Linked DNA regions of Homo sapiens: regions 1, 2, 3, 4 and 5 are each linked to region 6. Evidence: fine-mapped expression QTL. A gene starts in region 6. Each other region holds a variant in brackets. All regions are shown on one strand. Distances are between the middles of the regions.

Region 1 (5,073 bases), 40 kb after region 6:
CTGAAGCCAGGAGTTCAAGACCAGCCTGGCCAACATGGTGAAACCCTGTCTCTACTAAAAATGAAAAAATTAGCTGGGCACGGTAGTAGGCGCCTGTAGTCCCAGCTGTTTGGGAGGCTAAGGCTGGAGAATCGCTTGAGCCAGGGAGGCGGAGGTTGCAGTGAGCCAAGATTGCGCCATTGCACTCCAAGCTGGGCAACAGAGTGAGGCTCTGTCTCAAAAATAAAAATAAAAATAAAAATAAATCAGCTTTTAAATTCAGAATCCAAAGTCTGCATGTCACATTTGGCTTATATATTTCTTAATTCTTAATTTATAATAGCTTCCCTTCCATACCCTTTTCTTGACATTTATTGGTTGTGATCTAGACTTCCACACTTGTCTAAGAGCACCAACCGCCCAAGCAGACTTTGGTAATGATTCACATCAGAGCTAAGGACTCAACACTCTTGCAGGACTCTCCTGCAAAAAGCTCACATAGGCACAGCAGACAGAAAGGGATCAGGAGATACTAATCACGGAGATGTTAAATCATCTGCCCTTCTGCAAAACCCAAGAGGCAGAAAATAGAGTCAATCACCACAGATCAATCCAGGTTGATTCCTACCAGTGAGAAGCCCAACAGGTGCCAGCTACCCTGATGAAAGTTTCCTGCTAATCATCAAGTTGACTCCGAGGAGCAAATCACACTTAAGTTTATGTGGCCAAACTAAGGCACCACACAACATCATTTATGCCAATAATCTCAACTCTCGTTGCTCATTAGAATCAGCTGGGTAGCTTTGAAAACATGCAAGTAAATTAGAATTCCCCTGAATGCTATGTATGTGTGTACTACAAATAACTATCACAGCAATAAGATTACAAGTCATCGGCCAGGCGCGGTGGCTCACGCCTGTAATCCCAGCACTTTGGGAGGCCGAGGCGGGCGGATCACGAGGTCAGGAGATCGAGACCATCCTGGCTAACACGGTGAAACCCCGTCTCTACTAAAAATACAAAAAATTAGCCGGGCGAGGTGGTGGGCGCCTGTAGTCCTAGCTACTCGGGAGGCTGAGGCAGGAGAATGGCGTGAACCCCAGGAGGCGGAGCCTGCAGTGAGCCGAGATTGCGCCACTGCACTCCAGCCTGGGCGACAGCGAGACTCCGTCTCAAAAAAAAAAAGATTACAAGTCATCTTAAATCCTCAAAAATTGGTACAGGCACTGGTACTGCCTGCCACACAGACCTGGATATCTACAATGGGAGCTCCAAACATCTTTCAAGAGAAACATAATACATTTTCTAAAAATCTGTCTTCTGCCCCAAACTGCTTCATAAAACCAAAGCAAACAATGCTACCATTTTTCTAGCTATGCTAATAGTACTAGCAGACTCAAAGGACTCACAACTGGGAAACTATGTTAAAAAACAGAAAGTCCTAATTAGCCTGACACCTTTAAAACGAAACCTTCCAGGGGGATAAGATGATTTTCTTTTGGCATTAACAGGCACTATCAAATCTAACTCATCCATTACTCACCTTATCAAAAAATAACGATTCTGTTCCACCACCATGTTTGCTGGCATCTGCCATAGAAGAATCCTTCAGATTGAGCAGTTTGGGTTTCTTCTGCAAAAGAAAGATACAAACATGTGAGATTCAACGAGTGGTTTTCTCTGAATTTTATTTTTGTCTGTATTCAATGGTTTCATCACTGAAACCACTGCTGATTAATAATTTGAAACAAATGAGAGAACTCTAACCAACTCACTCCATACCCTCTAAGATTTCAACTCATATTTTCTATTTCAGTTTGCCTATTAAGTTTCTTTCTACAACAGAGGTTCAAAGATCATTCTACCCCCAAAATATTTTCTCCAGAAATGATCATGACATTACTGTGACAAACTTTTAGAATATCCTTACTTTTTCTAGGGGCCCAAAGTAACTTCATGTAGAATCTAATGCCACTGTTTTGTTCTCCTACCAGCTGAGGGAGAAAAGGCTGTTTGTAAAAAGAGCTCACAAATTGACAGAAATCAATCTTTAACCCTGAATAATATTTCAATTAAAAATTTACTTAAAAAGCATAATTTGCTGGGCATGGTGACTCATGCCTGTAATCCCAGCACTTTGGGAGGCCAAGGTGGGCAGATCATGAGGTCAAGAGATTGAGACCATCCTGGCCAACATGGTGAAACCCCGTCTCTACTAAAAATACAAAAAAATTAGCTGGGCGTGGTAGTGTGCGCCTATGGTCCCAGCTACTCAGGAGGCTGAGACAGAAGAATCGCTTGAACCCAGGAGGTGGAGGCTGCAGTGAGCCGAGATCAC[G/A]CCACTGCACTCCAGCCTGGGCAACAGAGTGAGACTCCATCTCAAAAAAAAAAAAAAAAAAAAAAAAAAAAAGGCACGCCAGCAATATCCACTCAGACTAATTTAATATTGTTCTTCTAAAGGGAACCAACAGGCCATGATATAATCCTGTCAGGCAAGAAGTTACTTTTAAAATCCACCACTTACTCTCTATGAAGAAATGCACAAACTTTGTGAGAAGTAGCACATTTACCTTGGCTATCTCAGAGTATACTTTCTTAAGAGCCGCAGCCTCTGCTTACACTGCCTATGGAGAAAGTAGGCGGAGAATTTTAAGCCCCCACTATATTCTTGCCACCTGTAGGTAATCAAGAGTGGGCGGACGTAAATCCAAGCATGGAGTGTATCTACTGAGCTGATTCTTGCTACCCATATAACTAATTCTCTTTATTGAAATGAAGAAATAGAAACCATTATTATGTTCAACTTGATTTCAAAAGATTTCAAAAGAAGAAACCATGACAAACACTAATGAAAAGGATACTTCAAAAGTGTCAGTAACACCTAGTACGTCAGACCTTGTAGTCAGTCAATCACTATTCATCAGCCACCTCTTACTATTAGAAATTCCCAAACTTTTGTCATTATTTAATTCTGCAGACATATCTGTCTCTTCTATATTACATACTGCTTTGAAATTCACTGAAGAATTAAACATTCAATACATACAACTAGCCCTCTCCCTATCATAGCTGTGTTACATCAAAGAAGGGAGCAAGCTAAGTTTTCTGCAGGCAGACCATCAGTGTTAACTATAACAAAAAACATCATGTAATGGATTACTAAGAGGAGTTTAAGACTTCCCTCTGCTACAGCCCAAAGGTCCTGCCTTGGAGATTAAGATGATACACATAAGATCTGGTAACCCAACAAAGAACTTTGAGCAGGACAGGGTTCTAGACCAGAGATCTCAAAAAACACATGCACTCTACTCACAAGAGGACCTCAGAGACCACTTATTTCTGAAATAATTCTCAAGCTCAAGAATGTTCTTTCTTAACACAAGGCAGATTTAAAGCATCAAAGAAGAAGGGGCCAGGCGCGGTGGCTCACGCCTGTAATTCCAGCACTTTGGGAGGCCGAGGTGGGTGGATCACCTGAGGTCAGGAGTTCAAGACCAGCCTGGCCAACATGGCGAAACCCCATCTCTACTAAAAATGCAAAAATTAGCTGGGCGTGGTGGCACACGCCTGTAGTCCCAGTTACTCAGGAGGCTGCGGCAGGATAATTGCTTGAACCCGGGAGGCAGAGGTTGTAGTGAGCTGAGATCACACCACTGCACTCCAGCCTGGGCGACAGAGCAAGACTCCATCTCAAAAAAAAAAGAAGGGAAAAAAATTTCAAGTATTGGAAATTCTTAGTAGCAACCAAAACATTAAAGAAATGACAGCTCATTGCAAAGGAGAGATAATAAAGAACTCAGAAAAGTACAGTAATCCAAGCAATCAATGTTATTCTAATACTCTTTTGCAAAGCCAGATAAACTCTGCACTGAGTTTCTGTGACACAATACTAACTTCCTCCAAATATCTAGGACCCAACCGTTAACACACTTAAGAACACATGACTGCCGGGCACAGGTAATCCCAGCACTTTGGGAGGCCGAGGCGGGCAGATCATGAGGTCAGGAGATCGAGACCATCCTGGCTAACACGGTGAAACCCCGTCTCCACTAAAAAAAAAAAAAAATCAGCCCGGTATGGTGGCATGCGCCTGTAGTCCCAGCTACTCGGGAGGGCGAGACAGGAGAATCGCTTGAACCCGGGAGGCAGAGGTTGCAGTGAGCCGAGATCGTGCCACTGCACTCCAGCTTGGGCGACAGAGCGAGACTCGGTCTCAAAAAAACAAAAAAAAACAACAACAACAAAACACATGACCACCTCTAGAGTACCTCTCCATTAGAAATACTTGTGAGTGTCAAAATGAGCAGCTGCTGCCCATTCTCACCTTAACTGGAGGGGTGGTTCCTGTAGGATGTCTGCGGATCTGGCAGCCATTCTGGCTGGGCCTCTGCGGCTTGTTGTTCAGTTGGGGCTTCTTGACAGTGCCTCCATGATCATTTCTCACAGAATCAACCTTCTCAGCAGTTGTTTTGCTTAAAAGCTGATTAAGACACATGAATGAGATTAATGCTCTTATCAAAGCAAACAAATATCATCTAGGAAAAGTCCCCTTCTGAGCACAGTTTTCCAACTCATCTAAGATAATAATAGTAAATAGTGTAATTCTTATTAAAAAAACATACCACGGAGCTGTTGGCATCTGGTAGGAATTGTCCAAACTCTGACAACAAATCTTCCTGGTTTTTAAAGAGACGAGCAACCTGGGCATACACCTCCTGCTCTGTCAATGCTGGAGTGTAGTTTCCTCCAGCTTCCTTGGCATTTCTCTGCTCTTTCTGAGGAATTGCAAATGAAAAGAGATCATTTGGGCTACTGTTTTGAGTCACTCATCTTTGCACGCTTTCTGGAATCACTGTTATCTATTTAGGCTGCATGTAAGAAGAAAGTCTATGTTCTTAGCACCCGTTCTGACCACAGACTTTCAAGTTGAGAAAAAAAAAAAGTTGAAGATGGTGGATGACAATTCCTTTCAAAACTAGGGTAGTAAATATTTTTGAGACGGAGTTTCACTCTTGTTGCTCAGGCTGGAGTGCACTTGTCTCGGCCTCCCAAAGTACTGGGATTACAGGCGTGAGACACCATGCCCGGCCTAGG
Region 2 (5,073 bases), 67 kb after region 6:
TTTTGGCCCTGTTTTCAAACAGGGGCAAAAGGAGGGGATCAGCCTACATTAGTGATTTCCAAATGCTGGTTTATGAACCAGTCTATAAGGAAAAAGAAGATTGTAGTGAGCTTTTCATACATTAAGTATTACAGTACTATGGTTTATTCTGATATCATACTCTATCTTTTGGCTGTTAAAATATCGTTTCTTTTATTAAGTGATTGGGATTTCATATGGTACTTAACTTCATCCACCTCCAGAGTTTGCTTTCCATACCACCTCTACAACACTACAGAGGCTGAACTTTCTCTGAACCATACTTTATTCCTTTAACAATTACCACTCATAGGCCGGGCGTGGTGGCTCACGAGATCAGGAGATCGAGACCATCCTGGCTAACATGGTGAAACCCCGTCTCTACTAAAAATACAAAAAATTAGCCAGGCGTAGTGGCGGGCACCTGTAGTCCTAGCTACTCGGGAGGCTGAGGCAGGAGAATGGCGTGGACCGGGAGGCAGAGCTTGCAGTGAGCCGAGATCATGCCACTGCACTCCAGCCTGGGCGACAGAGCAAGACTCCATCTCAAAAACAACAACAACAAACAAACAAACAAACAATTACCACTCAAAGTTCTATTCCTAACTCTCTCTCAAATAAATTGCTTCCGCTCTAATCATACCTCCTGGTTTCAGGCCCTGATCATCCTTCACAACAACCTTATAAGCAAGGTGTTCTCTAATTTATGAATGAGGAAACTGAAAAACAAAGATTAAGTAAACTGCCCAAGGTTGCACAGCTAGTAAGAGGCAAAGCTGTGATATAAATCCAGGAAATCTGTCTCCAGAGCCTGGCTCTTAACTACTTCACTACCTTACCTCTCACAGAAGAGAAGAAGTGAAGGAAGAATCCCTTTACTTATTTAAGGCACACATGCAGGGAGCAAGTTCAGCTTTTTTTAACCTTTCACACACTTAGCTAACTCATCCTTCTTCAGCCTAAACCTAATAAAGCAGAAATGCTTTAGTAGCATTCATTCATTAAAAGCAAATGTTCAGTGAGTAGATATGAAGTTGGTAGATGATTTCAGCCCTTGCCCTCTAAAACCATATATAGCCTCACTAGTAATAAAAAACGTGTAAAGTAGGCCGGGCGCGGTGGCTCATGCCTGTAATCCCAGCGCTTTGGGAGGCCGAGGCAGGCGGATCACTTGAGGTCAGGAGTTCAAGACCAGACCGGCCAACATGGTGAAACCCTCCCTCTACTAAAAATACAAAAATTAGCCGGGTGTGGTTGTGGGCGCCTGTAATCCCAGCTACTCAGGAGGCTGAGGCACGAGAATCACTTGAACCTGGGAGGTGGAGGTTGCAGTGAGCCGAAATCGCGCCACTGCACTCCAGCCTGGGCAATAGAGTGGAACTGTCTCAAAAAAAAAAAAAATAAAAGGTCAGGCGCCGTGGCTCACACTTGCAATCCTAACACTTTGGTTCGCCGAGGCGAGTGGATCACCTGACGTCGGGAGTTTGAGACCAGCCTGATCAACATGGAGAAACTCTGTCTCTACTAAAAACACAAAATTAGCCGGGCATGGTGGTGCATGCCTGTAATCCCAGCTACTCGAGAGGCTGAGGCAGGAAAATCGCTTGAACCTGGGAGGCAGAGGCTGCAGTGAGCCGAGATCGCGCCACTGCACTCCAGCCTGGGCAACAAGAGCAAAACTCCGCCTCAAGAAAAAAAAAAGTAATTTACTCCAAAGCAATTTAAAAAAAAAAAAGATGACAGTGTGGGTAAGGATACAGGGAAACACTGATGGAGGAGGCTTTAATTGGTACAGCCTATTTAGCTGGCAACTTGTAGGTATTTATTAAAATTTTAAATGTGCATACCCATCCCATGCATATTATGGAAAACTATGTAAGAATCAGATCAAAGTTTATCCACGAGTATAAGAAATGAACTCTAAAACATACTAGATTTTGGAATACTGAAACTATCAATTCCACTTTCAGGCCTGTATCCTACACATCTGCTGAGTATATTTATTGCAGCAAAATATGAAAATCTAAATATCTATCAGCTAAATAAATGTGATCATGCATATTATGGAAAACTATGTAGGAATCAGAAAGATCAGGGTTTATCCACAAGTACAAAGAATGAACTCTAAGACATATTAAGTGAAAACAGCAGGCTAGGCCGGATGCAGTGGCTTACGCTTATAATCCCAGCACTTTGGGAGGCCGAGGCGGGTGGATCACCTGAGTTTGGGAGTTCGAGACCAACCTGACCAACATGGAGAAACCCTGTCTCTACTAAAAACACAAATATTAGCTGGGCGTGGTGGCGCATGCCTGTAATCCCAGTTACTCAGGAGGCTGAGGCAGGAGAATCACTCGAACCCAGGAGGTAGAGGTTGAGGTGAGCCAAGATGGCGCCACTGCACTCCAGCCTGGGCAACAAGAGTGAAACTACGTCTCAAAAAAAAAAAAAAAAAGAAGAAGAAAACAGTAAGCTATAGAATACATACAGCATGATCTCATGTATGTATATATACACATACAAAATGTACTAAAGATTTGTACATTTCATTGTATGTAAAATTTGCATTGAAAGAAAAATGTGCCTGGGCACAGTGATTCATGCCTGTAATCCCAACACTTTGGGAAGCTGAGGCTCAAGGATGGCTTGAGCCCAGGAGCTGGAGACCAGCCTGGGCAACAATGGGATGACCCTGTCTCTACAAAATAAAGAAACAATTAGCTGGAAGTGGTGGCGCACAACTATGGTACTAGCTACTCCAGTGACTGAAGTGGAAGGATCTCTTGACCTCAGAAGTTGAGGCTGCAAGGTTGTAGTGAGCAGTGATAACGTCACTGCACTCCGGCCTGGGCAACAGAGTGAGACTCTGTCT[C/CA]AAAAAAAAAACAAAAAAAACAAAAAAGAAAAAGACAAAGAAAAAACATGCTAGCCACGCACAATGGCTCACAAAGTGCCTGTAATCCCAGCACTTTGGGAGGCCGAGGCAGGCGGACCTCTTGAGCACAGGAGTTCAAGACCAGCCTGGGCAACATGGCGAGACTCCATCTCTACAAAAAATACAAAATTAGCCATGCATGGTGGCATGTACCTGTAATCCCAGCTATTTAGGAGGCTGACGTGGGAGGATCATGTGAGTCCAGGAGACAGAGGCTGAGGTGAGCTGAGATCTCGCTACTGCACTCGAGCCTGGACAAAAAAGAAAAATGCTATAAACAATATTAAACTCTAGATAATGATAAACATGCTCAAGTGCTTAGATGAAGTATACTAATGTCTGCAATTTATTTTGAAATACATCAAAAAATCAGATTCATTGATGGAGCGATGGATAGATGGACAGGCATATGTTAAACCTAGTAGTAGAAAAATGATAATGGTAAAATCTAGGTAGTGTGTATATGGGTGTTCATTATATTTACTAAAATTCTATCAACTTTGTTGTGTATTTGGAAATTTTCTTGATAAAGTCTTGGAAAAAAACATCCACAGGTTCTGAGGATTAGGAAAAAAAAAAACAGGAAGAAAAGCCAACAATACAAACCAGCTCTTGAGTGGAAAAAATAAGTACTATAAATTGGGAAAGGGATACAGACAGGTACACTTGGGAAGACTCTATAAAGGTAAATATTCAGCTACATCTTGAAAATTAGAGATGAATTAGAACACAGGGGTATAGAGCATGAAATTAAAATAGTAAGTTTAGACTTGCAGGCAATAGTTATTTACAATCTTTGCCAAGTCATTCATCCCACAAATAATTAGCAAGTGCTTAAGACATGCCTGGCCCTGTGCGGAGGGTTAGAAGTCCAGCACTGAGCCAGAGATTTCCTCCCCGACAACAGCCAAGTCTTCCATGTATGACTGCTATCAGCTGATGTCCTCCTCGCAACAATCCTGTCAGATAGGCAGTCCCAGAACCCTTTTTTTTTTTTTGCAATAGCATACCATTATGTCCACCAGGCTGGAGTGCAGCAGGGCTATCACGGCTCACCGCATCCCCAACCTCCTGGGCTCAAGTAATCCTCCCACCTCAGCCTCCCAAGTAGCTGGGACATAGGCAGCGCCACCATATCTAACTTTTGTATTTTTTGTAGAGACAGGGTCTCGATATGCTGCCCAGGCTGGTCTCCAACTCCTGGCCTCAAACAATCCTCCTGTCTTGGCCTCCCAAAGTGCTGAGATTATAGGCATGAGCCACTGCGCCCAGCCAGACCCCTCTTTTTTTGAGGGAAACTGATACTCAAATTAAATGACTTATTCAAGGTCACATACCTGACTAAAAGAGCAAGAGGTTAAATTCTTCCTCCTTGGAATATGAACAATCTAAAGTAGAAACATTGGACAAGACTGTAAAACCACGCTTGCAGAGGGGTACAGTGTAATTCTAGAATATAAAGAAAGCCAAACGATGGAACCACAAAGTCAGCCACAAAAGTACTGTCAAGTCCCGCTTCAGCCAACATGGTTGATCTCCATCTGTTTCAAATTTGGAGTTTATAGTACTATCAGAACTCTAGTCTAGGAAGACATTATAAAAAGAAAAAAAAAGCACTTTGACGTATAGAAACTATGGAGAGAAGACTAAATAATGGCAGCAGAACATTTAAAGGTCACCTGGTGGGCACAGTGGCTTGCACCTGTAATTCCAGCACTCTGGGTGACTGAGGAGGAAGGATCATTTGAGGCCAGGAGGTGGAGGTTAGATTAAGCAAGATTGCACCACTGCACTCCAGCCTGAGCGACAGAGGAAGATCCCAAATACACACACACAAAAAAAACACCTACAGGTCCTAAAAGTCACCTGGCCATGTGTTATAATAAAACTGGGCGCGGTGGTTCACACCTGTAATCCTAGCACTGTGGGAGGCTGAGGCAGGCGGATCACTTGAGGTCAGGAGTTCAAAACCAGCCTGGCCAACATGGCGAAACTCTGTCTTTACTAAAGCACGAAAAACAAATTAGCCGGGTGTGGTTGTGGGTGCCTGTAATCCCAGCTACTCAGGAAGCTGAGACACAAGAATCGCTTGAACCCAGGGTGCGGAGGGTGCAGTGAGCTGA
Region 3 (5,073 bases), 20 kb after region 6:
CTGATCTCAAACTTCTGAGCTCAAGTGATCCACCCGCCTTGGCCTCCCAAACTGCTGGGATTACAGGCGTGAGCCACCGCCTCTACTTTATACTTTCTTGTTGAAGTAGACTGTATTACTGATTCCCCACCCATACTCTCTTTTTGGATATCTGGCCCCTCCTCGAGTCTTCAGAAAAGACAGCACTACAAATCCAGAGACAGCTACGGAACTCCCACCCCCACTGCTAAGCAGATCAGATTCTCTATCTTGCTAATTGGAGATGACAGAGAGGGTGTTCAATAGATTTTTTGAGGAGGAGCATCTGTATGGAAAGGTCTAGTAACACTGGGACCAGGGGTACTGGGAGGGCAAGCCAAAGCCTCAGAGGCTGGAGGAGCCTGGAGCACATGCCGTATGTTCATCTGCAGAGCAAAGCACAAGCATGGAGCAGAAGTCCAGAGTGAAGGCATGCAGGAGAGAAAAATCACCTCCCAGCCCAATCCTTCCATGGTGTGGTCCTATTTTGAGTTCTGTACTTGGATGTCTGTGAGGTTGCCTATTGTATTCTTAATACAAATCCCTCTTAAGCCAGCCTACAATAGGTAAGATAAATGTAATGGCTTCACTTGGCTGGAATGCAGTGGTGCAATCACGGCTCACTGCAGCCTCAACTTCCTGGGTTCAGATGATCCTCCCACCTTAGCCTCCTGAGTAGCTGGGACTACAGGCATGTGCCACCATGCCCAGCTAATTTTTTGTATTTTTAATACAAATAGTGTTTCCCCATGTTGCCCAGGCTGGTCTCCAACTCCTGGACTCAATATATCTGCCCGCCTTGGACTCCCAAAGTGCTGGTATTAGAGGCATGAGCCACCATGACCAGCCTTGACTTTGAAATATATGTTGTACATTCAGTCAGCAGTGGAATCTGAGGGAACACCAAATATGAGGAGAATGAGAGAAGAGATACCTCCAGTTAAAGGAGTTGAGAAGCTTGAAAATGTTTTAAAAAGTCACTGTAGGCTGGGCACAGTGGCTCATGCCCGTAATCGCAGCGCTTTGGGAGGCTGAAGTAGGTGAATTGCTTGAGCCCATAAGTTTGAGGCCAGCCTGGACAACATGGCAAAACTCCATCTCTACAAAAAATACAATAAATTAGCCGGTGTGGTGGCCCCTTTGGTCCCAGCTACTTGGGAGGCTGAGGTAGGAGGTCAAGGCTACAGTGAGCTGATCACACCACTGCACTCCAGCCTGGGCAATAGAGTGAGACCCTGGGTTGGAAAAAAAAAAAAAAAAAAAGTCACTGTTTTGGGGTTTTCTGGATGAAACCTGTTTCCATTAAAAAAAAAAAAAAAAAGCGGGGGGTGGGTGGAGATAGTATTTATTACTGATTCAAAATCATAACCAGATACAGTAAATAATTGTAACTATTGTTTCGAAAACCAACCTCAGAATTATTAAAAGTTAGTTTTATTGGATTTTTTTTTTAAGCTGTGCTGGTGGTATGAAAGACTTCGTTCCTAGCTGAAGCAGCAGCAAGCCTGTAATCAGCAACATAAGCACAGGGTAACTGGAGTCTGTATTTTATATAAATTTCAGGGAAGTTAAGGAAGATTAGTCTGAAAAAGTATGACTATGGGTGACTATGTATCCATCTAATGATTTCTGCCAGTTACCATCCAGACCTCTTATGGGAAGGCCTAACAACTTCTTCAACTTATTGGAAACAACTATCTGACAACTTTCCCCCAGATGTTAAGGTTCATTTATATGAAGGGCTCTTCCTCAATCCTGTGTAGATACTGTGGGAGGAGTACAGAGGCATGCACCCTTCCAAAACCAAGGCAAAAGCATGGGTACTTTGCAAAGAATTCAATATTTTAGCCCAAGAGAACATTAAGCAACAAGCTCTTTCCTTCTACAGTGGCAGTGTGGATTCTAGAATTAGAAATTGCTTTTTACAAGTTTTCACTTAAGTACTTCACCGCCTTTCTGCTGAGCTATTCTATGGAAGAGGGCTGTAGGTAGCCACGGTACCCAGGTGGAACAGCATGATCCTAAAGCCCTACTTCCACAAGGAATCGCAGTGGCCCATGGCCACGTGGTTCAACCAGCCAGCCCAGAAGATCTGCAGATGCAAGCAAAAGTATACCACATTGACCTGCACCCTGCATCTGGACCCATCTGACCCATGGTAAGCTGCCCCACAGTGAGGTACCACACCAAAGTACAAGCTGGCAGGGGCTTCAGCTTAGAAGAGTTAAGGGTGACCAGCATCCACAAGAGGGTGGCATTAGTACACCATGTCCCTGTGGGCCAATGTTCAGCACCTGAAGGAGTTAAGACTCCAAGCTCAACCTCTTCTCCAGGAAGCTCTTAGCCCCCAAGAAGGGAGACAGTTCTGAAAAACTCAAATCAGCCACCCAGCTGACAGGAC[C/G]AATAATGCCCATATAGTACGTCTATAAGAAGGAGAAAGCTGGAATCATCACTAAGAACTTTAAGGTATTTGCCAGTCTTCACACAGCCCACATCAATTTTCAGCTCTTTGGCATATGGGCAAAAAGGGCCAAGGGAGCCACAGAACAGGATGCTGAAAAGGAAAAATGAAGCCCTGCTGGGGACTTGCAGTCAATCAGCAGTAGAGCTGGGTCTCCAGAAAAAGAAAAAAGCAGTTAACCAACAATCTCTCTGGGAGTTCAGAACTCAAGTCCAAGAAGTAGAAATGTGACTATCTGTTACAAGCTATTTTTTATATCATTGTTGTAAAGAACAACATGTTTACAAGTTCCCAGGGTGCCACAGGAAGAACACACAAAACCAACCAGAAACCTAACTTAGAGGGAACCGCAGATGAGTGAGGTGGGCAGAGTATTATAAAAGATGTTATGTGAACCCTTTCTTATAAAAAGAATTTCAAATATTAAACAATGCAAGTACATAAGAGTTACCAACACCTTGACCAGGCGCAGTGGCTCGTGTCTATAATCCCAGCGCTTTAAGAGGCCAAGACAGGAGGATCACTTGAGACCAGAAGTTCAAGACCAGCCTGGGCAAAACAGTGACACCCTGTCTCTATTTAAGGAAAAAAAAAAAAAACTTACCAACACCTATGGAAGACGCAATGTTCCACACTGTGTGCTTACCCATGGCAGACAAGGTAAGAGATAGACAAGTTGTGCAGGAAGCTGGGGTCAGGACCACTGCACTCTACAGGTGGCCAGCAAGAAAGGATATGGGGTAGGCAGGCTCATACACTGCAACTTTGTTAACATGAGAAATCAGGCATCACATTAACCTCCCCTCCTCTCTTCAGAACCCTACGTTCATAAACACTGTTATATGAAAAAGTTGCCTTTCCTTTTCCTTGCGTGGCCCATCTCTAGGTAAGGATTTCTTCCCTTACTCACCCTAGCCTCCTCCATGCCCTCACCTGTCTGACAATGCTCTGGATCAGTTTGTCCATGGTAAAGGCAATGTAGGCATGAATGGTGAACATCTCTCTCAGTGAATCTTCATACTGTGATGAGTCTATGTTGCCATCCAGCAGGCTCCGCACCATGTCCAGGAAAGCTGGGTAATAATCTTCTACATCAACATCCACTGTGGGAGAGATGGGATTGGTGAGGCCTTACCTTGCTAAGAAAAGACTAGGGATAGAGTACAGGGCAAATCCCACAGCTGGCCTAAATGGCATTTGAAAGTATGAACACTAGGTATTCAAAATATACTCACTCATTCCAATGTAAACAGAGATGAATTCCGACAGGTGACTACAATCACCAGCACTATCAGAGTGACTCTGCAACTTTAACAGTGGCTTCTAATATTCTGACTACCATGCTAGAAAGATACTTCTTTATGGTACTGCTGGGCCACTTTCAGAGAGGAAAATATCCTAGGGAAGCCAGTCCTTCAAAGAGCTGTTGGCTCCCCTGCTGAGAGAGGAACCTACTCTCCCAGCCTGCACAAGAGCATTCCTCACATGGGTCACTTGCTCATAAAGCTATTTCAATGAAGCATAAAGTACAGATGAGGAAAGGCAGACACAGCCATACTCCAGCACTGGGAAACCTCTTGGGAACACAAAAATAGGAGTGCAAATTAAATCCTTTATGAATAATGAAGTAATCTGCATTTGTCAAAGTCCTTTTGTTTAAAAATGGATTCGCTACGTTGTATTTCACAAATTGCATTAAATCATCTGTAGTTGCTGCACATGAATCATTTCAATCACTAGCTAGAATAAATCTCATCAGTTGTTAAAGACATTTGGCAACTAGCAGAGGGCACAAGGAGTATTAAAGAGTGCTGCCTTTAGCTTACTAAAGACCCATTTATATAAAGTTCAAAAATAGACAAATCTAATCTCTAGTGTTAGAAATCAACAAAGTGGAAAAAGGACTGGTTATCAGAGTACTGGTTATGTTTCGTTTCTTGAACATAGGTACGTCTAGTCTGTAAAAATTCACTGAGCTGCACAATTCTGATTTGTATACTTTTCTATATATACATGCCGTACCTTATATGTATTTTTTTGTAGAGATGGGGTCTCACTTATTAACCAGGCTGGTCTCAAACTCCTGGCCTCAAGTGATCCTCCCACATCGGCCTCCCAAAGTGCTGGGATTACAGGTGTAAGCCACTGCACCCGGCCTATACATTGCACTTCAACAAAAAGTTGACTAAAATGAAAAAAGTTACAAAACGAACTATTTGTCACTGACTAATTGGTTACTTGCTAGTTGTGTTTGTGCTGGAGAAAAAAGGCTAGGAGCAAAACCAAGTTGTCTCCATTTATCTGAAGTCTGACGAATTCATTAAAAAACAGGCAAAACAGGACAAATACTGTTTAAAAGAGGCAACTGGCTTGAGTTTCATCACAGACTATCACATTCTTTAGCTCCATAGAATAGGTATAGGCTATAGACTCCAAAATATACCACTGCTATGAAAACTGCTTTTATGCCAGAATAAAGTTTTGAGTCCAAACCACAGATTTGTCCAAACAAGCTGTGGTAAGTGTGAGGGTTGGCATTATCAGACAAGACAACATTATGTAAGCCTCAAACCAGGTTAAGTCAGTGGCCAAGC
Region 4 (5,073 bases), 150 kb after region 6:
ACTGCCTCTAAGCTCATTGATAGTAAATTTGTCTCTTATGACCCCATGGAGGAAGAGAACAAACCCATAAATGGCCTTTGGAAAGCATTCCTAAAAAGTAGATTAAGGCTGACATAGTGGTTCATGACTGTAGTCTCAGTACTTTGGGAGGCTAAGGATGGTGGATAGCTTAAGCCCAGGAATTTGAGACCAGGCTGGGCAACATGACAATACCTCATCATGTAGTGACCTATAGTCTCAGCTACTTGGGAGGCTCAGGTGGGAGGGTCACTTGAGCCCAGGAGGTCGAGGCTACAGGGAGGTCATGCCACTGCACTCCAGCCTGGGAGACAGCGTGAGATCTTGTCTTAAGAAAAAGTAAGACTGGGCGCAGTGGCTCACGCCTGTAATCCTAGCACTTTGGGAGGCCAAGGCAGCTGGATCGCTTGAACCCAGGAGTTCAAGACCAGTCTGGGCAACATGGCAAGACCCTGACTCTATTTAAAAAAAAAAAAAAAAAGAGGGAAAAGAAAGAAAAAAAAGTAGATTAACAGGTATTAATAGTAAGCCATGGCTGGGTGTGGTGGCTCACACCTATAATCCCAGCACTTTGGGAGGCTGAAGCAGGTGGATCACCTGAGGTCAGCAGTTTGAGACCAGCCTGGCCAATATGGTGAAGCCCCATTTCTACTAAAAATACAAAATTAGCTGGGTATGGTGGCACATGCCTGTAATCCCAACTACTTGGGAGGCTGAGGCAGGAGAATTGCCTGAGCCCAAGAGGCAGAGGTTGCAGTGAATCGAGATTGCACCACTGCACTCCAGCCTGGGCAACAGAGCGAGACTCCATCTCAGGGGAAAAAAAAAAAAAAAAAAGTAAGCCTATTCCCAGACCAAACTGAGGAACATTTGAAGATACAGAAAGTATTCCTCAGTCCAATTTCCCAGATTTATAAAGATTTCTCAAAGATGTACTCTTCCACCAAGCCAGATCCGTACTTATATGTGATCTGCAGACCCAAATGGTCATTAGGATAAATTATTTGATTGGACTACTCACAGATGACAGCAAGAGTTTTCACATCTATTTAGAATTGAGAAAATGTTTGGCACAAAACTCATTCCTGAAATCAGGAGTCTCAAAGTTATTGTTTTTTGTTTTGAGACAGAGTTTCACTCTTGTCACCCAGGCTGGAGTGCAACGGCGGGATCTCGGCTCACTGCAACCTCCGCCGCCCGGGTTCAAGCAATTCTTCTGCCTCAGCCTCCCGAGTAGCTAGGACTACAGGTGCCCACCACCACACTTGGCTAATGTATTTTTAGTAGAGACGGGGTTTCGCCATGTTGGCCAGGCTGGTCTCGAACTCCTGACCTCAGGTGATCCACCCACGTCGGCCTCCCAAAGTGCTGGGATTACAGGCGTGAGCCACTATGCCCAGCCTCAAAGTTATTTTGTATCTTACTATTTTTGCACCAGCACCTCCTGGGAACCTCCATATCTTCATCCCTTTAACAAATTCCAAGGCAGAAGCACCCGCCCATGAGCTAACATTTCAAAAATGTCTAATTCTGAGGTACATGAAAGTTTCTCCAGCAGACTTAGTTTCAACTGGCACCTAATGTGTTACATTAGTGTTAAATCTTTACTCCTTTTTCTTATTTATTTCTTTACTTATTTTTTAATTTTTAGTAGAGATGGGGTTTCATTATGTTGCCCAGGCTGGTCTCAAACTCCTGACCTCAAGTGATCTGCCCCCCTCGGCCTCCCAAAGTGCTGGGATTACAGGTGTGAGTCACTGCGCCCTGCCCTTGACTCCTTTTTCACAACCCCAGAGAGACTATGATCCACAAAGGTCCAAGATGCTGTTAAAATGTGTGGCACAGGACAGGTCCAGTGACTCACACCTGTAATCTCAGCACTTTGGGAGACTGAGATGTGAAGACTGCTTGAGGCCAGAAGTTCGAGACCAGCCTGGTCAACAGAGTGAAACTCCGCCTCTACAAAAAAATTTTAAAATTGGACGGGTTTATTAGTACGTGCCTGTGGTCCCAGCTCCTTGGGAGACAGAGGCAGGAGGATCATTTGAGCCCAGGAGTTGAGGCTGCTGTGAGTTATGATGATGCAACTGCACTTCAGCCCGAGCAAAAGTGAGACCCTGTCTCTTAAAT[A/G]AAAAGAAACAAAGAAAATGTGTGGCACAATTATTGAATAGGCTATCCAGATCTAGATACTTTCTATTTCTCCATGAGCTCCTCAAGGGTCAAATTCAAATTATGGGCTTTCCCCTCATGACTCCAGGTTGTGGCAGGGGACTAAAACAAAAACAAGTCAGTGAGGGGGCAAAGAGAATTTAAAAAAAAAGAAGCTTGGATGCATAATGAATGATCCAGGTTCTATATTCCCAGATCAAAGTGCTCATCCTGTGAAGGCACATAAAACATGAATGCAGTAAGATTTTCACACTTTAGGGTATAGAATAGATAGATAGATAGATAGATAGATAGATAGATAGATAGATAGATGTGTGTGTGTTTATATATGTGTGTATATATATACATATACTTTTTTTTTTTTGAGACAGAGTTCGCTTTTGTTGCCCAGGCTGAAGTGCAATAGTGCGATCTCTGCTCACTGCAACCTCCGCCCAAGTTCAAGTGATTCTCCTGCCTCAGCCTCTCGAGTAGCTAGGATTACAGGCACCCACCACCACGCCTGGCTAATTTTTTGTATTTTTACTAGAGACGGGGTTTCACCATGTTGGCCAGGCTGGTCTCAAACTCCCGACCTCAGGAGATCCACCCCCTTGGACTCCCAAAGTGCTGGGACTACACGCGTGAGCCACCAGAATATATATATTTTTAAGACAGCATTTTACTCTGTTGCCCATGCTGTAGTGCAGTGGCACAATCATGGCGCACTGTAGCCTCGACCTCCCAGGGCTCAGATGATCCTCCCAGGGCTCAGGTGATCCTCCCAGGGCTCAGGTGATCCTCCCAGTTCAGCCTTCCGTGAGTGTCTGGGACTACAGGCAAATACCACCATGCCTGGCTGCCTAATTTTTAAACTTTTTGTAGAGACGAGGCCTTGCTATGTTGCCCAGGCTGGTCTCGAACTTCTGGGCTCAAGCGATCCTCTCACCTGGCCTCCCAAAGTGTTGGGATTACAGGCATGAGCCACTGCACCCAGTTTAAGATTTACAATGGGCCGGGCACGGTGGCTCACGCCTGTAATCCCAACACTTTGGGAGGCTGAGGTGGGTGGATCACGAGCTCAGGTGATCGAGACCATCCTGGCTAACAAGGTGAAACCCCATCTCTACTAAAAATACAAAAAAAAAAAAAAAAAACGGGCGTGGTGGCAGGCGCCTGTAGTCCCAGCTACTCGGGAGGCTGAGGCAGGAGAATGGCACGAACCCGGGAGTCGGAGCTTGCAGCGAGCTGAGATAGCGCCACTGCACTCCAGCCTGGGGGACAGACCGAGACTCCGTCTCAAAGGAAAAAAAAAATAAAAAAAATATTTTTTTAATTCTTGAGCTACATGTTACAGAAAACACCAAGAAGTTTAAAATACAGTCCCTGACATTGGTTTTAAAAAAACGGAGAAGCCAGATGCAATGGCTTATGCTTGTAATCCCAGCATTTTGGGAGGCCGAGATGGGAGGATTGCTTAAGTCCAGGAGTTCAAGACTGCAGTGAGCTACAATCATGCTACTGCACTCCAGCCTGGGTGACAAACCAAGCCCTAGTCTCAAAAAACAAAAAAGAAAGAAACTGAGGATAGGAGATCCATGAGGGGCTACCAATGAAACAAGACTGTTACAGATCACTTTGAAGAAGACGGATGATGGATATGTGGATGTTCACGATACCATTCTCTCTCAACCTACAGAGATTCGGATGTTAAAAAGAAAGTTTCCTGCCCTCAAGAAGCGAGTGGATTCATCATGTTGCCCAGGGCTGGTCTCAAACTCCCGGGCTCAGACAATCTGCCCATCTCAGCCAACCAAAGTGCTAGGATTACAGGCATGAATCAATGCGCCTGGCCTCAATATAGCACTTCTAATCCGGAGGACCAGCCAAAGATGTCGAGAGCAGTAAGAAACTGTAAATTACAAGCACCAGGGAAAAAGGAATAGCAGAACAACAGCATGGGAGGACAGAAATAACTCTGCCCAAGAGTGAAGAAACCAGGATCTTAGAACCAGCTGGACTAACATATGATGACTGTAAAAAACTTCTTGGGGCTTGAGTTTAATTGTCAATTGAATTGTAACAATACCAATTACCTTAGCAGGAAGAGAGTGATGACCTGAGCTGGTTCTTTATGCTTATGCACCTCTTTTTATTAAGGATGGTTTTTGCTTAACTTTATACTTCTGGGCTTCTCCCTGAATGTTTTTTTGTTGTTGTTGTTTGTTTTGTGTGGGCTTTTTTGTGGGGTTTTTTTTGAGACAGGTCTTGCTGTGTCACCCAGGCTGGAATGCAGTGGCGTGATCATGGCTCACTACAGCTTCACCATTCTGGGCTCAAGTGATCCTCCCACCTCAGCAACCTCCCCCACCTCCCCCAAGAAGCTGGGACTAAAGGTGCACGCTACCACACCCAGCTAATTTTTTGTATTTTTTATCAGAGACAGGGTTTCACCATGTTGTCCAGGCTGGTCTCAACTCCTGGCTTCAAGCAATCCACCTGCTTCAGCCTCCCAAAGTGCTGGGATTACAGGTGTGAGCCACTGCACCCAGCCCTCCCCTGAATGTTGAGTCTCAAAATCCTCTGAACTAAACGGCATTATTCCTGTTATGCAGACAAAGAAACTGAGGCCTTAGAGGTTCTGATATGAGCAAAAAGAACCAGCACAGGTCATCTCCCCCTCATTCTTTTCCAATAAGTAGTTTTCCATACACTGAAGATTGCCGATAATTGACTTTCTCAGCTTCTGTTTTCCTGACATAGAGCCAAGGTGGTAAAGAGAACGCCCACCATCTTGATAGTGCCTGCAAACATGCCGAGTTCTAAAGGACATGGATTGTTTTCTATTCATAGCATTGCCCAGGGCACATCCTAGGAGAATGGCGAAGGCACTGCTGAATTTAATCA
Region 5 (5,073 bases), 510 kb before region 6:
AAGCATTCCTCCCACCTCAGCCTCCGGAGTAACCAGGACTACACACATGAGCCACCAGGCCTGGCTGATTTTTAAAGTTTTTTTGTAGAGATGGGGTCTTGCTTTGTTGCCCAGGCTGGTTTTGAAGTCCTAAGCTCAAGTGGTCCTCCCACCCTGGGCTCCCAAAGCACTAGGATTACAAATGTGAGCCACCTTGCCCTGTCCAGATCCAATTGTTAAATACAATGCTAATATTAGACATAGCCACAGAGTGACCCCCTCAGTTTACAGATGTAGAAACTGATATTCACCATGATCCTAGGACCCAAAATGGGAGCTCTCTCCTTACTCTGAATATTTATAGAGCTGAGGGTCAGCATTGAATATGTTCTCTGGTTTTATCACAGATACTTCCTCTTATCTCTTATCTTCCCACCTGAGCCACCAGTTCATAGAGGGTATGAATGTCTGACTGCCTCCAGGCATACAGCCAGAACTCACTGTGTCTGGACGGGCCTCATACTACAGCCTCCACCCCTTCCAACCTCCTCTGCGACAGACTGTGGCTATGTTCTTCCTGCTGAACACCACCTCTGCCCTGATGGCTCCTGCAACTTGGACAAAGTGACAAGGTGAAGTTCAGGAGGCTCTGTGTTGCTGAAGAATTGGCCTTGAGGTTATTTCATGCCTGAATGACCAGTGGTTTACTACCAGAATCATCTGGCTTCCTGCAAGGAAGATTTGGGGCTTGGTATCTGTTCCCCTCTCAGACTCAGCAGACACCTAGCCACCGCTGAAGTCACTGAAATCGGATCTACCATCCACAGAAGTGGCTCCTCGAGTCTGAGTCACCAGAGGACAGAGGAAGAGGGGCCACTCTGGTAGCAGTTTCAGGTAATGGCAAACAGACATCTGGCCAAGGTGCACATGTTTAATAGGTGATCTCCAGGCCCACAAAGAGATGCCATTTCCTTTATGAATGGCAGACAGAAGGGGACTGTGATGGGGATCATAGGGTGACTGCCCTGTCCACTCTGATCCCTCCCTTTTTCCTAAAATCTTAAAGACATGGCCTTGGACTCCTCACCGGGCTCCTCATAAACAAATCTGATCTCCATGATTAAGTTAGAAGCTCCCTGCAGCCATGTGCATCTGTGTCTGGTTCATATTCTAGTTCCTTGGTGCTTGGTGAAGGGCCTATGGCAGCACAGCAGCTCAGCGGTTTGAGAAGACACGCAGCACGCTGTAGGGCCTCCCTCTTTTTAGAAAGCACTGCCCAAGTGCCAGGGCATAGCAAACAGGAGGCACCTGCATCACAGCAGTAGCCCAAGGGCCTGGAAGCACGTTGCCTAGGAAGAGCAACCTAAAACGCTGAGACAAGTGGATATTTTCCCATCTAAGAAAACCTAGGCTCTTTCTGAAAGATGTGCGTGGCTTCAAGACAAGCTGAGCCCTGGCAAGAAAGGGAGGGAGGAGGAGGGACTGGGGAAGGAAGCTGACATTTACTTAGTGTCTACGGTGTGCCAAACTCACCACACAATGATGCTACTGTGAAATTCTAGTCACCCCAGAACTAGCCACTGTGTCGAGTTGTCAGAAAAGAGGGTTTTACTGGCCTTCCTTGACCTGGTTCTTCAAAAGACTTATGACCCCCTAATCCACTATTTATAATGACTTTACTGCTCTCCTGGTACCTAGGGTGGTACTAGTTATACTCCATACTTGAGAGAGCTGAGAGAGTCACTCCAATCAGCTTCTCTGTTCTGTGGCTCAGCTCGGGACCCTGGCTGAGAAAAGCTACAATACAGCTCCTCATTTAACCCTCACAACAGCCTTATGAGGAAGGAATATTTATATTTTGCAGCTGGAAAAGCTCAAGCTCAGAGAGGGGAAGTAGCTTGTCTTAAGATCTCAGGGGTAGTGGCTCAGCCAGATTTTCAATCCAAGTCTGTCTCCAGGGACACAAGATGGTAAAGCTGAGTGGGGCAAAGCATCTCGAAGCCTGGTACGGAGCCTGACAAATTGAAGGCGCTCAGT[G/A]AATATGTGGCAGGATGAATGAGCCCCACTCCAGGAGGACACTGACAAGGGCTTCTGCTTGTTTCCTTGCTTCCTTCTTTCCTTCAAAGAGCTGGTTCTTTTTTTTTTTTTTTTTTTTTTTTGAGACGGAGTCTTGCTCTGTTACCCAGGCTGGAGTGCAGTGGCGCGATCTCAGCTCACTGCAAGCTCTCCCGGGTTCACACCATTCTCCTGCCTCAGCCTCCCCAGTAGCTGGGACTACAGGCACCTGCCACCACGCCCGGCTACTTTTTTTGTATTTTTAGTAGAGATAGGTTTCACTGTGTTAGCCAGGATGGTCTTGATTTCCTGACCTTGTGATCCGCCCACCTCAGCCTCCGAAAGTGGTGGGATTCAGGCGTGAGCCACCATGCCCGGTCCTAACTGGCTTTTAAATGGGTCAAGTAGGATGGTGAGGGCTAAGTTTCACCTACAAGGAGGAATAACCTAAAACTCCCCTGCAGTGCCACTCAGAGTGGCTATTGCCCTTTACTGAATTTGTAACAAATAAAAGGCTCTTAACCTCAGTTCTTTTCATTCAGCAACCAGCTACAGTGTGAGGAACATACCACAATGCATAAGACACAGCTCTCACCCTTCTGGAGTCCACAATCTGGTATCTGAGACAAGTGGGCACCCCCTGAAGGGGTGCTGGGGACCACGGCAAGGTGCAGAGCAAAAAACAGGAAGAAGGGGAGACACCTCGGTGGGCTTCAAGAAAGGCCAGGTTGTAGAAGGAAGACAGACAGCAAAGGCCCAGATCAGTAAGGCCCCCCACCACTGCAAGGCAGGGGGGCACTTCCACATAGCTGGGGGGTAAAGGCAGTGAGGGAAGAGAGGCAGGCAGAGTTAGGCTGCAGCTCTCCCAGGAACGGCCATGAAAACCACACTTTTTTTTTTTTTTTTTTGAGATGGAGTCTCGCTCTGTTGCCCAGGCTGGAGTGCAGTGGCGCAATCTCTGCTCACTACAATCTCCACCTCCCAGGTTGAAGCGATTCTCGTGCCTCAGCCTCCTGAGTAGCTAGGATTACAGGCACATACCACCACGCCCGGCTAATTGAAAACCACACTTGTCACTGGTTTGGAAACCTCATACCATGCGTTTCACAGGTGCTGGCTGTCTGAGCTCTCTGTGACTTTTCCTTGCCTTCCCTTCCTGTATTCCACCCAGGCTCCCAGTGTGAGGTTTATTTCAGGCTCCAAATAAACACATTAAATAAATATCTTATCTCACGGACTAAAAAAAATTCAGGGCCAGCCGGGCACGGTGGCTCAAGCTTATAATCCAGCACTTTGGGAGGCTGAGGTGAGAGGGTTGCTTAAATCCAGTTTGAGATCAGCCTGGGCAACATAGCGAGACCCTGTCTCTTTTTTTTCATAGTAAAAATAAAAAATAAGTTTAGGCCTGGCGCGGTGGCTCAGGCCTGTAATCCCTGCACTTTGGGAGGCCAAGGCAGGCGGATCACCTGAGAACAGGAGTTTCAGACCAGCCAATATGGCCAACATGGTAAAACCCCATGTCTATTAAAAATACAAAAATTGGCCGGGTCTGGTGGCTCACACCTGTAATCCCAGCACTTTGGGAGGCCAAGGCAGGAGGATCACCTGAGACCAGGAGTTCTAGACCAGCCAACATGGCCAACATGGTGAAACCCCATCTCTATTAAAAATACAAAAATTGGCCAGGCGTGATGGCTCACGCCTGTAATCCCAGCACTTTGGGAAGCTGAGGCAGGTGGGTCACCTGAGGTCAGGAGTTTGAGACCAGCCTGGCCAAGATGGCAAAACCCCATATCTACTAAAAATACAAAATTAGCTGGGCGTGGTGGCAGGCGCCTGTAATCCCAGCTACTTGGAAGGCTGAGGCAGGAGAATCGCTTGAACTGGGAGGCGGAGGTTGCAGTGAGCCAAGATTGTGCCATTGCCCTCCAGCCTGGGATACAGAGGAAGACTCCATTTAAAAAAAAAAAAAAAAAAAAAGCCAGGCGTGGTGGTGCATGCCTGTAGTCCCAGCTACTTGGGAAGCTGAGGCAGGAGAATCACTTGAACCCAGGAGGAGGCTGCAGTAAGCCAAGATCACTGCGCAGCACTGCACTGCAGCCTGGGCAGCAGAGCAAGACTCTGTCTCAAAAAAATAAACAATAATAATAATAATAAATAAATTCTGGCCAGGCACGGTGGCTCATGCCTGTAATCCCAGCACTTTGGGAGGCTGAGGCGGGTAGATCACCTGAGGTCAGGAGTGTAAGACCAGTCTGGCTAACAAGGTGAAACCCCATCTCTCCTAAAAGTACAAAAATTAGCCAGGCATGGTGGCGGGTGCCTGTAATCCCAGCTACTCAGGAGGCTGCAGCAGGAGAATCACTTGAACCCAGGAGGCAGAGGTTGCAGTGAGCCAAGATCGTGCCACTGCACTCCAGCCTGGGCAACAGAGCGAGACTCAACTCAGGGAAAAATAAATAAATAAATAAATTTTAAAACATTAAAAATTCAGGGTCATGCTGAGAGGCAGAGAGTCAGCAACACTCTGGAACCTCTGTGAAGTCCTATTGGCTTTGGAGATGAGGCTGAGTGTCACAGAGCACGAAAAAGCAATCACCCCCAGAGTGGCTAGCTGGGTCCCAGTGCACAAAGAGCCACAATTGACCTTGGTGCTCTCTGACCTGATACCTGAGAATCTGTCCTAAGAAAATATCACAAAAACATGTAAAAATCTGTACCTGCAATGATATTCATAGGACCAGGACTTACAATAGGAGAAAAAAGCACGAAACAAACATCCAATGACAGAGACCACAGGTATGTTTTGGTACGCATCCCCTTGAAGGCCCACAACGCCACTAAGCATCACAGCTATGAAGATGGTGCAGCAATACAGAACAGGCTTTCTGGTCGGGCATGGTGGCTCACGCCTATAATCGCAGCACTTTGGGAGGCCAAGGTGGGCAGATCACGAGGTCAGGAGATCGAGACCATCCTGGCTAACACGGTGAAACCCTGTCTCTACTAAAAATACAAAACCAAATTAGCCGGGCGTGG
Region 6 (5,073 bases):
GAGTAGCCTGGCCAACACGGTGAAACCCTTTCTCTACCAAAAATAAAAAAAAAATAGCTGGACGTGGTGGCACACACCTGTAATCCCTGCTACTCGGGAAGCTGAGGCATGAGAATCGCTTGAACCTGGGAGGCAGAAGGTACAGTGAGCTGCGATCGTGCTACTGTACTCCAGCATCGGCGACAGAGGGAGACTTCGTCTCAAAAAAAAGAACATGAATGCTGAGATGTTAATAATGTTCATCTCTATTCTAGGGAGTGGAATAACGGTAGTTATTTACTTCTTTGTGCTTTCCTGTATTTACCACAGGCAAACATTGCTATTATTTTTGAGACAAGGTCTCACTCTGTTGCCCAGGCTGCAGTGCAGCGGTGTGATCATGGCTCACTGCAGCCTCATCCTCCTGGGCTCAGGTGATCCTCCCACTCAGCCTCCCAGGGTAGTGTGGGTCACTGCACCCAGCCCATTATTTTTATGGTTAGGAAAAAATCATGCTTTTAAAAGCAAACAATGAGATGTGAGGATGATTGTGCTAGAGCAGAGGCGGGCTTATGAGATCACTCTGGGCCTCAGCTCCTCCTTGCTCACTGGTACTCCCTCCCTGACAGCACTGGTCAACCAGGGCACAGGGACTCACCTTCGGGGGTCTCTTTCCCCCAGCCTGTCAGTCAGGACATAGCTGGTCTTCTCACCCTCTTTGGTTAAACCCTAGTAGGGAGGGGAGTGAGAGAGACAAGGCTTGAGGCTTTTGGACAGTTCAGGTAAAGTGTAAGCCATGGGGAGTCAGGCCCCTCCATCTGGTTCCCAGCTCTGGGTCCTCTCTCCCAAGCAGGGCCAAGATTGGCAAATCAGGGACCCTTGGCAGTAGATGCCCCAACTCCCATGGCAGCCAGCACCATGACCGTCAAATAGCCCCTGTTTACCAGTGGCAAACCCATGGTCTTATGGGAAGGGCCCTGGGAAGGGGTTAGGCAGCCTGAGTGTGGATTCTGGTGGCCTCTGCACCCCTAAATAAATACCGGGAAAGAAACTCCGTGAAGTCAGGGGCAGGTTTGCCTCATTCCCTGCTACACCCTAGTGCTTAAGGGTATGGCCCAGAATGGACACCAGGAGATATTTGCTGAGCCAGTGAAGGGAGGAAGGGATGGTCTCTGCCTTCTTGTAGCCAGGAAGAACAGTCTTAACCCCAGATTGAGAGTCAGTCCAATTTGAAATAGAAGCTGTGTGAACCTGAGTGAGTCAACTACACATCTGTTTCTTAATTTGTAAATGGGTATAAAGACCTACTAGATAGGAGTATAAGGACTAAACCTGATAAGGGTGGAGCATGAATAAGACACTTAACAGTGGTTATAGCTGGGGAATGGGATGGGTGATAAGGAGAGATCCATTACTTTATCTAGAACTGTTTGAAATGTTTTCCTATAAGTTTGTATTATACACAATAAAAACTAAGGACCAATTGCACAGATGCCCAAGTGGCAACTTCCCTAGTCCTGAAATCCTGATACCACCCTGTGGGCAGAGCAACTCAGCTGTGGCTTCTCCAGAGTCCACAGAAGAAGGGCTGTAGTCATTTCAGGGCTGAAATGTGGCCATACCTGGCCCTAGGACAGGGTTCCTCACCTGGACAGGTTCTCCATCACGCCACACCAGACCTTCTCCATCACTTTCCCAGCAAAGGTGAACTTCCTGGCCCACCCATGCCTCTGGGATGGTCAGCTCCACCCGGAACCAGCAGGTCCACCATCTGCAAGAGAGCTGTTGTGATAGGCCTAGAGGTAGAAGTCCTATCCTGATATCCTTCCTTGGATAAAGTGTCGGCAGGGGCTTGAAACTCTCCAAGCATCTGCAGTGTCACAAGGTACTCAGCTTTGAGTCACAAGAAAGGAGCAACAAGGTGAGAAGCAAGATGAGGGAAACAGGCAGAGGCGTCAAAGGTTCGTGATCCCTAGGGTGCCCTTCCTAAGGGATGTCCAGAGGCGGCCACGTGGGAATGAAAACCATCCCCTGAAGACCCAGGGACCAGAGAGCTGTTCCCAGCAGAGGGTGCTGCTCCCAGCAGAGGGTGCTGCTCGATCCCACGTAGTTGTCTACGGCAGAGGGCAGACAACGAAGGTGTGGCTGGGAGCTGGGTTGGGACTTCCCCTAGGCCTGTGGCCCCGCCCACCCGCTGGGCGTTACCTACGTGGGTCCGAAGCTGTCGCCGACCTGCGCGGGGCGGAAGTCCCGCTGGACTGCCTCCTGGTAGGGAAGTCTCTCCGGCGTCAGGAAGCTGGAGAGCACAGCCACAGGGCAGCTGGCCCCAAAAAGCCTGCGTGGGACGGGCCGGTGGGCACATGCTGGAGGCCGCCCCGTTTCCGCCTGGGGGCCAGCTGGCCGGTGGGGCCGCACTTTCCCTGGATCCTCCGCCAAGAGGGCTGCCTGGCCGCTCCGCGGCACAGTCCATTCCCTACCCCCTCCTCCCCGGCCCCTGCCCTGCCCGCGGCGGGCACTTTGTCCCGCGGCCCGGGTGGCTGCAGCTTAGGTTTCTCCCCGGAAGGAAAGCTTGAGGCGCACGGTTGCGGTCGGCCGGCTGCGGGGGACCAGGGGCCACACCTGCCGCGGAGGTTACAGTCGGTAAAGTAGAGCGGCGACACGAACTTCTCCACCCGCTCCAGCGTGGTGCGCCAGTGCTTCAAGGCCGGCGCAGCCGCCATCGCCGGGCTCTCGCTCCTCTTTCCGGAAGGCCCCTGGCGCTACCGTTCCGCTCCACGGCAGGAAACCAAAGGTTCCGGCGTCCAGAGGGCGCCTCCCAGTCCCGGGCAGCTTTTCTTGGAACACCGGCGGCTCTCGGAAGCCCAGCTGCTGTCTGAACTTTGAGCCGAGTTGGAAGCTAGAAACTGTTTTTGAGGCTCTCCTATGTTGTCCGAAATAGTGGGCCGCAGGGAAAATCTCAAAATAAAATGGGAAATTTGACGATTAGAACTCTCGAAAGTCTCAAGACAGAGACTTAGGCCATTCGGCAAGACAGGCGGGAGCCTCAGCTGCTGCAGACCCAGCCTCAGAAGCAGCAACCGGGAGACCTCTGGCTCTAGCTGTCGGTGAACACGGAAAGTGGTGTTTGCTTAACGTGGAGCCAGACTACCCGGAATAGGTGTTTTCATACCGGACGGAGATCAGGGTGTTAGTGAGCAGGGTGGTAGAGCTTTACGCCCAAGTTACTACGACTTACTCGATTACACGCTTTACTGAATGTATATTGCTAACTCTTGCACATCACCAGAAACTCTGGAGTTTGAGGTGGCAGAACAGTCATGGCATTGACGATCCCAATGGAAAAATGTATTTCACCATACAGGACTGTAGAGTCCCGGGAAGCCATAATACCAGAAACAGACCTCCAGTTTCATTCTCATCCCTAGTACTCCACTGACAGCTTTATTTTTTTTCTCCTGGGGTTGCCAAGAGTCTTTGTCTATAAAATCATTAGGAACAAAAAAAAATACACAAGATTAGCCCTGATATTTTAATGGAAATACTGACCAAGTTTACAACATTTCAAATGCAGATCACACGGAAAGGTGACTAAGTACAGAATAACAAATGTGATTTAAAACAAAGATAACCTGCTGCTGCATATAATACAGGTTGGGTTTAGAGCTTGGAGCTCAGATGTCAGACAGCAGGAGGAATAAAAATGCTACTTGTGAAAACCCAGGCTGTAGGTAAAACTTACTCTTTTGTTGGTTGCACTGGTGGGTTGGGACTTTCTCCTGAACTGGCCTTGAAATCCTATCCTGACCTGCAGGCAAGTGCTCTGGACAAAACACTGCAGGGGCAGCAACAGCTGGGGCTGACCCTGATCACACCCCACCAATTTCCCCTATGGTTCCAGGTCAACATGACCTTTCTTGAGGGAACACGGGGATAGGTGAATTATTTGAGAAAACCTCAAGATCTTTCCCCTAAATCAGTACACATGACCACCGCCAAGTCAGACACTGCCCCAGCTTTGCCCTAAAATCTCATCCCACAAAGCTCTTTTTGGCACCCTACACTTTGGCTCACAGTCTCTTCTCCCCAGTACAAAAAAAGCCTAAAATCAGGCCAGGGTGGCTCACACCTGTAATCTCAGCACTTTGCGAGGCCGAGGTGGGAGGACAGCTTGAGGCCAGGAGTTTGAGACCAACCTGGGCAGCATAGCAAGACCCTGTCTCTACAAAAAGTTAAAAAATTAGCTGGGCGTGGTGGCATGCAGCTACTCAGGAGGCCGAGGTGGGAGGACTGCTTGAGCCTGGGAGGTCAAGCCTGCAGTGAGCTATGATCGTGGCACTGCACTCCAGTGTGGGTCATAAAGCGAGACACTGTCTTTAAACAATAAAAGCCTAAAATCAGAGAGGTCTACCATGTGTTTTGAAAATCCAGGAGCCAAAAAATTTTGTTTTTCTTTTTGGTGGTGGTGGTGATTTTTAACTAAAAAGCAAACATAAAACACACAGAACATTGCTGGTTACAACTAAGACTTGCGTAATGGTTGCTGAAGAAAAATCCACCAGAGTACTGGGAGGGGCTCAGTTGGTCTTTGTTCAGAAAGTCCAGGTTAACCACATAGAAAAATCCTAATCATTCATGTTTAAATGTCTGCTAGTTTAAATTTATGTAATTAAAAAAATAGGTATCCCATTTCAAATTCTCTCCCTCCCAACTCCATTTATAAGGTATACCACATGCCTTATGCACACTTTTTTTTCAAACACTGGTTTGGTATTTAAGTTGCTCACCCCCATCCATCACCAATGTGAATAAGAAAAAATATATAGAAATACAAACTACATAGCTTGACAACTTACCCAAATATAAAATATTTTCAGATTATTTGAACAAGGGAAAAAAACACGTACTAAAAGACTTAAGTATTCTAAGATTTTGGAATATTTTGATTTGGGACAAGTAACAAGTATTTTAAGCAAAATCCTGTTTCTACCCTGGATAAGGAACTGAAGTCAAAATCCCTGCTTCACAGTATTTTCTGGTGAGGACAAGGGACGTGGGTTGAGAGTTTATTCCTTAAGTAAGAACCAAGCTTTATTT

Direction of the effects. Positions count from the first base shown, and alleles are read on the strand shown. Sizes are in standard deviations (SD) of each study's normalised expression. Not every link is listed here.
For the expression in cerebellum of the gene that starts at base 2,723 in region 6, G is the low allele of the variant in region 1 and A is the other (moderate effect, 0.50 SD a copy in GTEx).
As copies of CA replace C in region 2, the expression in monocytes of the gene that starts at base 2,723 in region 6 goes up (large effect, 1.1 SD a copy in Quach 2016).
With allele C in place of G in region 3, the expression in coronary artery of the gene that starts at base 2,723 in region 6 is lower (moderate effect, 0.67 SD a copy in GTEx).
For the expression in monocytes after R848 of the gene that starts at base 2,723 in region 6, A is the low allele of the variant in region 4 and G is the other (large effect, 1.1 SD a copy in Quach 2016).

The links. PIP is the estimated chance that this variant, and not a neighbour inherited with it, causes the effect. A credible set is the group of variants that fine-mapping cannot tell apart.
Region 1: its variant is the best candidate, but not a certain one, in a credible set for the expression of MAN2C1 in cerebellum (GTEx, PIP 0.63).
Region 2: its variant is the best candidate, but not a certain one, in a credible set for the expression of MAN2C1 in monocytes (Quach 2016, PIP 0.62).
Region 3: its variant is the best candidate, but not a certain one, in a credible set for the expression of MAN2C1 in coronary artery (GTEx, PIP 0.56).
Region 4: its variant is the best candidate, but not a certain one, in a credible set for the expression of MAN2C1 in monocytes after R848 (Quach 2016, PIP 0.57).
Region 5: its variant is the best candidate, but not a certain one, in a credible set for the expression of MAN2C1 in whole blood (INTERVAL, PIP 0.55).

Annotation. Positions count from the first base shown.
Region 1 is chr15:75,405,533-75,410,605 of GRCh38, forward strand. SIN3A (SIN3 transcription regulator family member A) reads right to left here. Exons shown (of 21, transcript NM_001145358.2): 7 at 4,602-4,754; 8 at 4,304-4,459; 9 at 1,523-1,612. Among named protein-coding and RNA genes, the nearest start is that of MAN2C1, 39 kb to the left of the region's middle. The variant G/A (reference allele first, on the strand shown) is at 2,318.
Region 2 is chr15:75,433,243-75,438,315 of GRCh38, forward strand. All of the region lies in intron 1 of SIN3A (SIN3 transcription regulator family member A), which reads right to left. Among named protein-coding and RNA genes, the nearest start is that of SIN3A, 16 kb to the right of the region's middle. The variant C/CA (reference allele first, on the strand shown) is at 2,891.
Region 3 is chr15:75,386,240-75,391,312 of GRCh38, forward strand. SIN3A (SIN3 transcription regulator family member A) reads right to left here. Exons shown (of 21, transcript NM_001145358.2): 16 at 3,413-3,582. It also overlaps the pseudogene RPL13P4. Among named protein-coding and RNA genes, the nearest start is that of MAN2C1, 20 kb to the left of the region's middle. The variant C/G (reference allele first, on the strand shown) is at 2,420.
Region 4 is chr15:75,517,985-75,523,057 of GRCh38, forward strand. All of the region lies in intron 4 of PTPN9 (protein tyrosine phosphatase non-receptor type 9), which reads right to left. Among named protein-coding and RNA genes, the nearest start is that of PTPN9, 59 kb to the right of the region's middle. The variant A/G (reference allele first, on the strand shown) is at 2,149.
Region 5 is chr15:74,856,693-74,861,765 of GRCh38, forward strand. All of the region lies in intron 1 of SCAMP2 (secretory carrier membrane protein 2), which reads right to left. Among named protein-coding and RNA genes, the nearest start is that of SCAMP2, 14 kb to the right of the region's middle. RefSeq lists enhancers at 511-620, 651-710, 1,061-1,110, 1,341-1,410, 2,789-2,898. The variant G/A (reference allele first, on the strand shown) is at 2,017.
Region 6 is chr15:75,365,885-75,370,957 of GRCh38, forward strand. MAN2C1 (mannosidase alpha class 2C member 1) reads right to left here and starts at 2,723. Exons shown (of 26, transcript NM_006715.4): 1 at 2,599-2,723; 2 at 2,189-2,314; 3 at 1,627-1,750; 4 at 638-708. The coding sequence starts at 2,699. SIN3A (SIN3 transcription regulator family member A) reads right to left here. Exons shown (of 21, transcript NM_001145358.2): 21 at 3,495-5,073. RefSeq lists a silencer at 2,390-2,469 and enhancers at 2,496-3,028, 2,600-2,919, 2,604-2,898.